Linked DNA regions of Homo sapiens: region 1 is linked to region 2. Evidence: fine-mapped expression QTL. A gene starts in region 2. The other region holds a variant in brackets. All regions are shown on one strand. Distances are between the middles of the regions.

Evidence for each region. PIP is the estimated chance that this variant, and not a neighbour inherited with it, causes the effect.
Region 1: its variant is fine-mapped to the expression of ADORA2B in monocytes (Quach 2016, PIP 0.94).

The regions. Positions count from the first base shown.
Region 1 is chr17:15,910,899-15,913,799 of GRCh38, reverse strand. It overlaps a transcript of ADORA2B not described here. Among named protein-coding and RNA genes, the nearest start is that of ADORA2B, 33 kb to the left of the region's middle. The variant A/TA (reference allele first, on the strand shown) is at 1,416.
Region 2 is chr17:15,943,384-15,946,284 of GRCh38, reverse strand. It overlaps ADORA2B (adenosine A2b receptor), which reads right to left and starts at 1,155. Exons shown (of 2, transcript NM_000676.4): 1 at 702-1,155. The coding sequence starts at 1,036. RefSeq lists an enhancer at 338-1,152 and a silencer at 980-1,599.

The DNA.
Region 1 (2,901 bases), 32 kb after region 2:
AAATAGTAACCCAGATGGACATATGGGAGGGGTGACGGGACCGGCCCTTTGGCCAACACTGCAAGATGTCCAGGCCAAATTTTTTTATAGCATATTTTTCATAATCTAGAAAAATGTTGGTAAGGTTTTAATAAGGCAGGTGAGTCAAGTTACAATGTATGAATTTAATGAGTTTGGAAGGTTCAGAGATTCTGCTTGGAAATGTATTGTGTCCATTCATGATACCATAAGTGATAGTAGCAGAGAAAGAAGGAAAAATGACAAAGGTCTTAGAATGGCCAGGTTTTGAGTTTCCCTCCAGGGGTCCTTCTTGTTTGCAATTCTGGGATTTTCACCATCAAGCTGGAAAAGCTGGAAACAACTGTTGACAAGACTGACTGCAGCTCTGAAACCAGGCTGGATGCGGAGGTGTTTATTCCTTGAGTTCAGTGAAGAATTCCAAGTCAGAATGACCATCAGTGGGAGCTGGATATTTCCACTAATTAATCAAAAATTATCTATTTAGCAACTGTTACACATTAGGCTGTAGCATTTTGAGTCAGTAAATACACAGCTCTGCTTCCAAGGAGCTCAGAGTGCAGGGTGTAAATGCACAGCCTAAGAATCCAAGCCCTTCTGGCTCAGGGAAGGAAGAGCCAGCTGTGGGCCAAGGGACACAGGGTGGGCAAGTGCCATGGGCTTCTGGGCAGCAGAGACCATTGCCACAGACAGTGCAACAACAGATGCCTCAGGGGGCACGTTGGGAGCCTCTCACCTGACACCTCATTTAATACGACCACTTTCTAGGGTGAGTGTTTTCTCTCCATCACCATCTGACGAATCTAGGCTACAGAGGCGCAGGAATAAGCCCTGGGGCTTCAGTGCAACTAAGTGGCCTGAAGCCAGGTACCTGTAAAGTGTGTGTGCTCAGACAGCCCAGGCTCGAAATGTCCACAGATGATGCTTCATTCTTGTAGCAGTCTAGGCCACAGGATGGGAACCTCCCTAATGGGGCCCAAACAGTGGCAAATACGGAAGAGATCGTCCCAAGTGCTAAGTCATTGGCCCTCCATAAAATGCCCATGTGTGCGTGCGTGTTTGTGTGCATGTGTTCACATATGCCTGCATATGCATGTGTGAACCACTGAGCAGCTGAAGACAGCTGCAGGTGATCAGATGTTGGGCAAACGAGACGTGGTATCTCCTGGACACAGCTTCTCTTGTCACCTGACAGCCCAAGAGGGAAGTGAGCCGTGGCTGCTATCCTGGCTAGGTGATAAGTGATGATCCCTTATCCGAGCCTGTGCTGTCTGAGAAGATGCAGAGGCCCTAGGGAGAAAAAGGCTGGGATAGTGTGGCTTCCCTGGGAGGAAAAAGTGAACACTTCAGGACAGGCAGCCTCATTGCCCTGAAACACCACCTGCATTTTTTTTTTT[A/TA]ATTTGATACAGGGTCTCCCTCTGTCACCCAAGTGGGAGTGCAGTGGTGCAATCATAGCTCACTGCAGCCTCAACCTCCTGGGTTCCAGCAATCCTCCCATCTCAGCCTCCCAAGTAGCTAGGACTACAAGCATGTGCCACCAGGGCCTGGCTTTTTTTTTTTTTTTTTTGAGACAGAGTCTTATTCTGTCACCCAGGCTGGAGTGCAATGGTGCAATCTCGGCTCACTGCAACCTCCACCTCCCAGGTTCAAGCGATTCTCCCTGCCTCAGCCTCCTGAGTAGCTGGGAATCACAGGCCCCTGCCACCACACCCAGCTAATTTTTGTACTTTTAGTAGAGATGGGGTTTTGCCATGTTGGCCTGGCTGGTCTCAAACTTCTGACCTCAGGTGATCCACCCGCGTTGGCCTCCCAAAGTGCTGAGATTATAGGTGTGAGCCATCACACTCAGCTGGCCTGGCTAATTTTTAAAAAAATTTTCTTGCAGAGATAGGGTCTTGCCATGTTGCCCAGGCTGATCTTGAACTCCTGGGCTGAAGCAGTCCTCCTGCCTCGGCCTCCCAAAATGCTGCCATTACAGGCATGAACCACCATGCCCACCCACCACGTGTTATTTCTATGGACAGGACATGCCATTTCTCTTCTACGTGCATGTCTATTGGCAAGTAAAATGGCAGTCAGGGAACCTCCTTGAGTTATAAAAATAAGTTGCACATGGCCCTTCTTTCATGTGATGTTTCTTTCCTTCTTGTTAGCCTAAAGGGATCAGGATAGAGACCAGAATGGCTGAGTTTGGCTAAAGTAATCAGCAACTTGGGCTCCCACTGGAGAGGGGCTGGTATGGCTCCAGTGTGGAAGGAGGGAAACCACAACACCATCCAGCATAGAAACTGCTTTGAGCAGAGCTGGTTCTAGATCATTTACATGTAATCACTCAGAGCCAATCACAGTAAACACTGACTCCGGGTATCCCAAGACCACAACTGCCTCCCCACATAAACCCCTGGAGTAATTTCAGCTTAAACCCAACAACCAACAACTCAACCACTTGGGATATTACTTTCCCCCACTTTAATAGCAGGCAAAGTAGAAGCACAAGGAGAAAGAAAAATGCATCGATTATGTCAACAAAAGACAGTTGCGTGAAGCAGCACAAGTAATAACTCTCGGGTTGAATTGGTTCTGACGGTGCCTCAAGTTTCACTTAAAAACAAAGGCGCGGGTGATATAATGACCATCGCCAAGCAGTTGCTCAGGAGCTCCCACAGGCTGCCTGCCCTGGGGCCACCAGGGAGATCCCTGCCCCACTTAGTGGTTCTCCATGCAGCTGTGCATTGGAGTCGTCTAGAGAACTTTCAAAACATGTAGACTGCATCTCTGGTCCCATTCCAGACATTCTGAGTCAACCAACTGGGGTAACCAGTTTTCAAAACGGTGCCCTGAAGATTCTGATACAGAGCTGCAGCTGGGATCCACTAGCAGAGC
Region 2 (2,901 bases):
TTACACAAGGGCAGTGAGGCTGTAAGGCCGTTTGCCAGACACGAGGAAGCATTGTAACTCCTTTTAAAAGTATATAATCTGAGTCCGTAGCGTTCCCCAAAGTTAACGGACACCTTCCCCTGGGATGGGCCGGGCCGCCTCTCCGCAGCAGACACGTTCTGAAGCTGGCTCATGCGTGTCCATTCTGACGGTGCGAATGCCCAGCGTCCAAAGTTGCCTTGCCCTTAGTGGGAACCTCCCGGGCCTCCGGGAGCCGCAGCACTCACGGGACTGCCGCTGCACCGCCGCTGCGGGCGAGTGTTAGGAACGGCCTTCGTGGCAGGAGTGGAGATGTGATCACCAAAACTCCCGCGCCCCGGGCTCCACCCGCCCACGGGGGTGACGCTTTCCCCGGGGGTGACGCTTTCCCCGGGGTTTCCACGGCGCCTCCCCGGGCGCCGGGGACCGCACTCCCCGGACCCCCTAGAGCTGTCCCTACGCAGATCTCCTTAGAGCGACGCGCATCTGGGATGTCTTGGGTGCCCGGGCGCACTGGTCTAGCGTTGCGGGGTGGCCAGGCTGGGAACCAGCCCTCCAAGCGCCCCGCGCGCCCCCAGCCTGGCCCGTCTGGGGCCCCCGAGGGAGGAACCCCGGCCTGGAGAAGACGACCCATTTCGGAGCTCCGACGGGGCCCCGAGTTCGGGCGACGCCGAGCGCCTCACCTGAGCGGGACACAGATGGCCAGGTATCTGTCGACTGCCACGGCCAGAAGGCTGAAGATGGAGCTCTGCGTGAGCACCAGCACGAAGCAGGCGAGGAAGAGGCAGCCGTAGAAGTCAGTGCAGAAGCCCAGGCTGATGGTGATGGCAAAGGGGATGGCGAAGAGCCCCACGGCCACGTCGGCCGCAGCCAGGGACACCAGGAAGTAGTTGGTGGGCGTCTGCAGAGTGTTCGCCGTGCCCACCGCGGCGCACACCAGCACGTTGCCCGCCACCGAAAGCGCGGCGATGACCAGCTCCAGCGCCACGTACAGCGCGTCCTGTGTCTCCAGCAGCATGGCCGGGCCAGCTGGGCCCCGGGCGCCCCCTACCGAAGGCGCGCCGGGCGAGGGGCAGCCGCGTGAGACCCGCCGGGCATGGCCATAGCGCCCGGACCGCGCCTCCGCCTGCCGCTTCTGAGCCTCGGGGCTGGGGCGCTGGTGGCCGGGACCCACGGGTCGGGGCCCCCCGCGGCCAAGAGGCGGCACCCATTGGCCCGCGCGCCCGCCCGTCTCGGGCTGGGCGGAGCACCACCCACTCGCCCGAGCCCAAAGTTCGCGCCCGCGCGGGGCCCCTCCGGTCCAGGCGCCGTGCCGCGTCTTGGTGGCGGCGGATAACTAACAAATTGCCCCAACTTCCCGTCACGCTCGAGCTCGGAGGCTGTGTCCCAGTGCTCGCACTGCCTTCCAGTCCGGGCGACTCCTGGGATGGGGCCGGGCTCTGCCCGGGGCGCCAGCAGGTCCCAGGAGCCGCCGCGAGAGGACCCCCCAGGGCCGCGCAACCCCGGGCGGGGCGAGCTCACTCCAGGCTAACCCTGCGCACCCCGGGCAGGCCGACTGGATGGGGGGCTGCCGGGCAGGCAGGGAGCCGAGGCCGCAGTCCCCGCTCGTGCAGCAGTCTCGGGCAGCGCAGCACCACCGGAGCTGTCTCCAGGCTGCGGGGCCGGACTGCAAGGAGCCCTCGGGGGCTGCAGCCCCCTCCGGCCGCCTCCCAGCGAGGCTCAGCGCTGTTCTCCACCCTCGCCCGCGCCACTGCCCCTACGGCCCCGCTCTGCCTTCTACCTTAAGACAAGCTCGTGGCCGTCCCATCCTCGTCCACCGCCCGAAAATACCAGTGTTCCCCGGGCCCTCTTTTTTCTTTCCTTCACACTCACCCTGGATCGGCACAGGCTCCCGAGGCCTCCCACGTGGCCCTCACACCCTTAACTCCCAAATCTCTTGCTTCAGCCCTAACAGCCTCCTGAGGGCCAGATCCTAACACCCCACTGCCGACTCTCGCCAGGAGAGAGACTGGTGCCCCCAAATCCAACAAGACCAAAACCAAGCTCATCTCTAATTCTCCCCAAACCTGTGCTGCCGCCTTTTCCTGGGACCCTGTTCGTTATTGACCTGGCAACCCTCACCCACCCTAGGAAGTTTGCTGACACCCTGAGCCTTCGCCTTTCTCCACGTCCCAATGATCAGCAGTGCTGCTGGTTCTGCTTCCAGAGACTTGCTTCCTTTTACCCCCAAAGTCCTGCCCCGAGTCCCTCCTCACCACCTGCTTCTACCATCCCTCCCTCTCTGCCTGTGGGTCCTCAGCTTCTGCAGCCCTCACCAACACCATTGTTCTAGAGCACTCCTGGCCACGCTATTTCACCACCCGAAAGCCTTTGCTGACAGTCACCAAAGAGGATGGGTAAGGAGATTTTCCAGCAACAGGAAAAGATGCTTGTAAAATCATGTAAAGCAAAAATCAAAACATGGGGTGACTGCTAAAGGGTAAAGGATTTTGTAAAGGATTTTTTAGGGTGATAAAAATTTTCTCAATGTGGTGATGGTTGTACGGTTCTGTGGATATACCTCAATGCCACTGAACTGTACACTTGAAAGGCATGCATTGTGTGGCACATAAATTATATCTCAATGTAGCTGTAATGACGACAACATGGCTCACGCCTATAATCCCAAAACTTTGGGAGGCCAAGACAGGAGGAACATTTGAGGCCAGGAGTTCAAGACCAGCCTGGCCAATGTAGGGAGACCCCATCTCTAAACAAACAAATAAAAAATAAATCAGCCAGGCACGGTGGCAGGTGCCTGTAGTCCCAGCTACTTGGGAGGCTGAGGCAGGAGGATCCTTTGAGGCCAGGGGTTCGAGGCTGCAGTGAGCTGGGATCATGCCA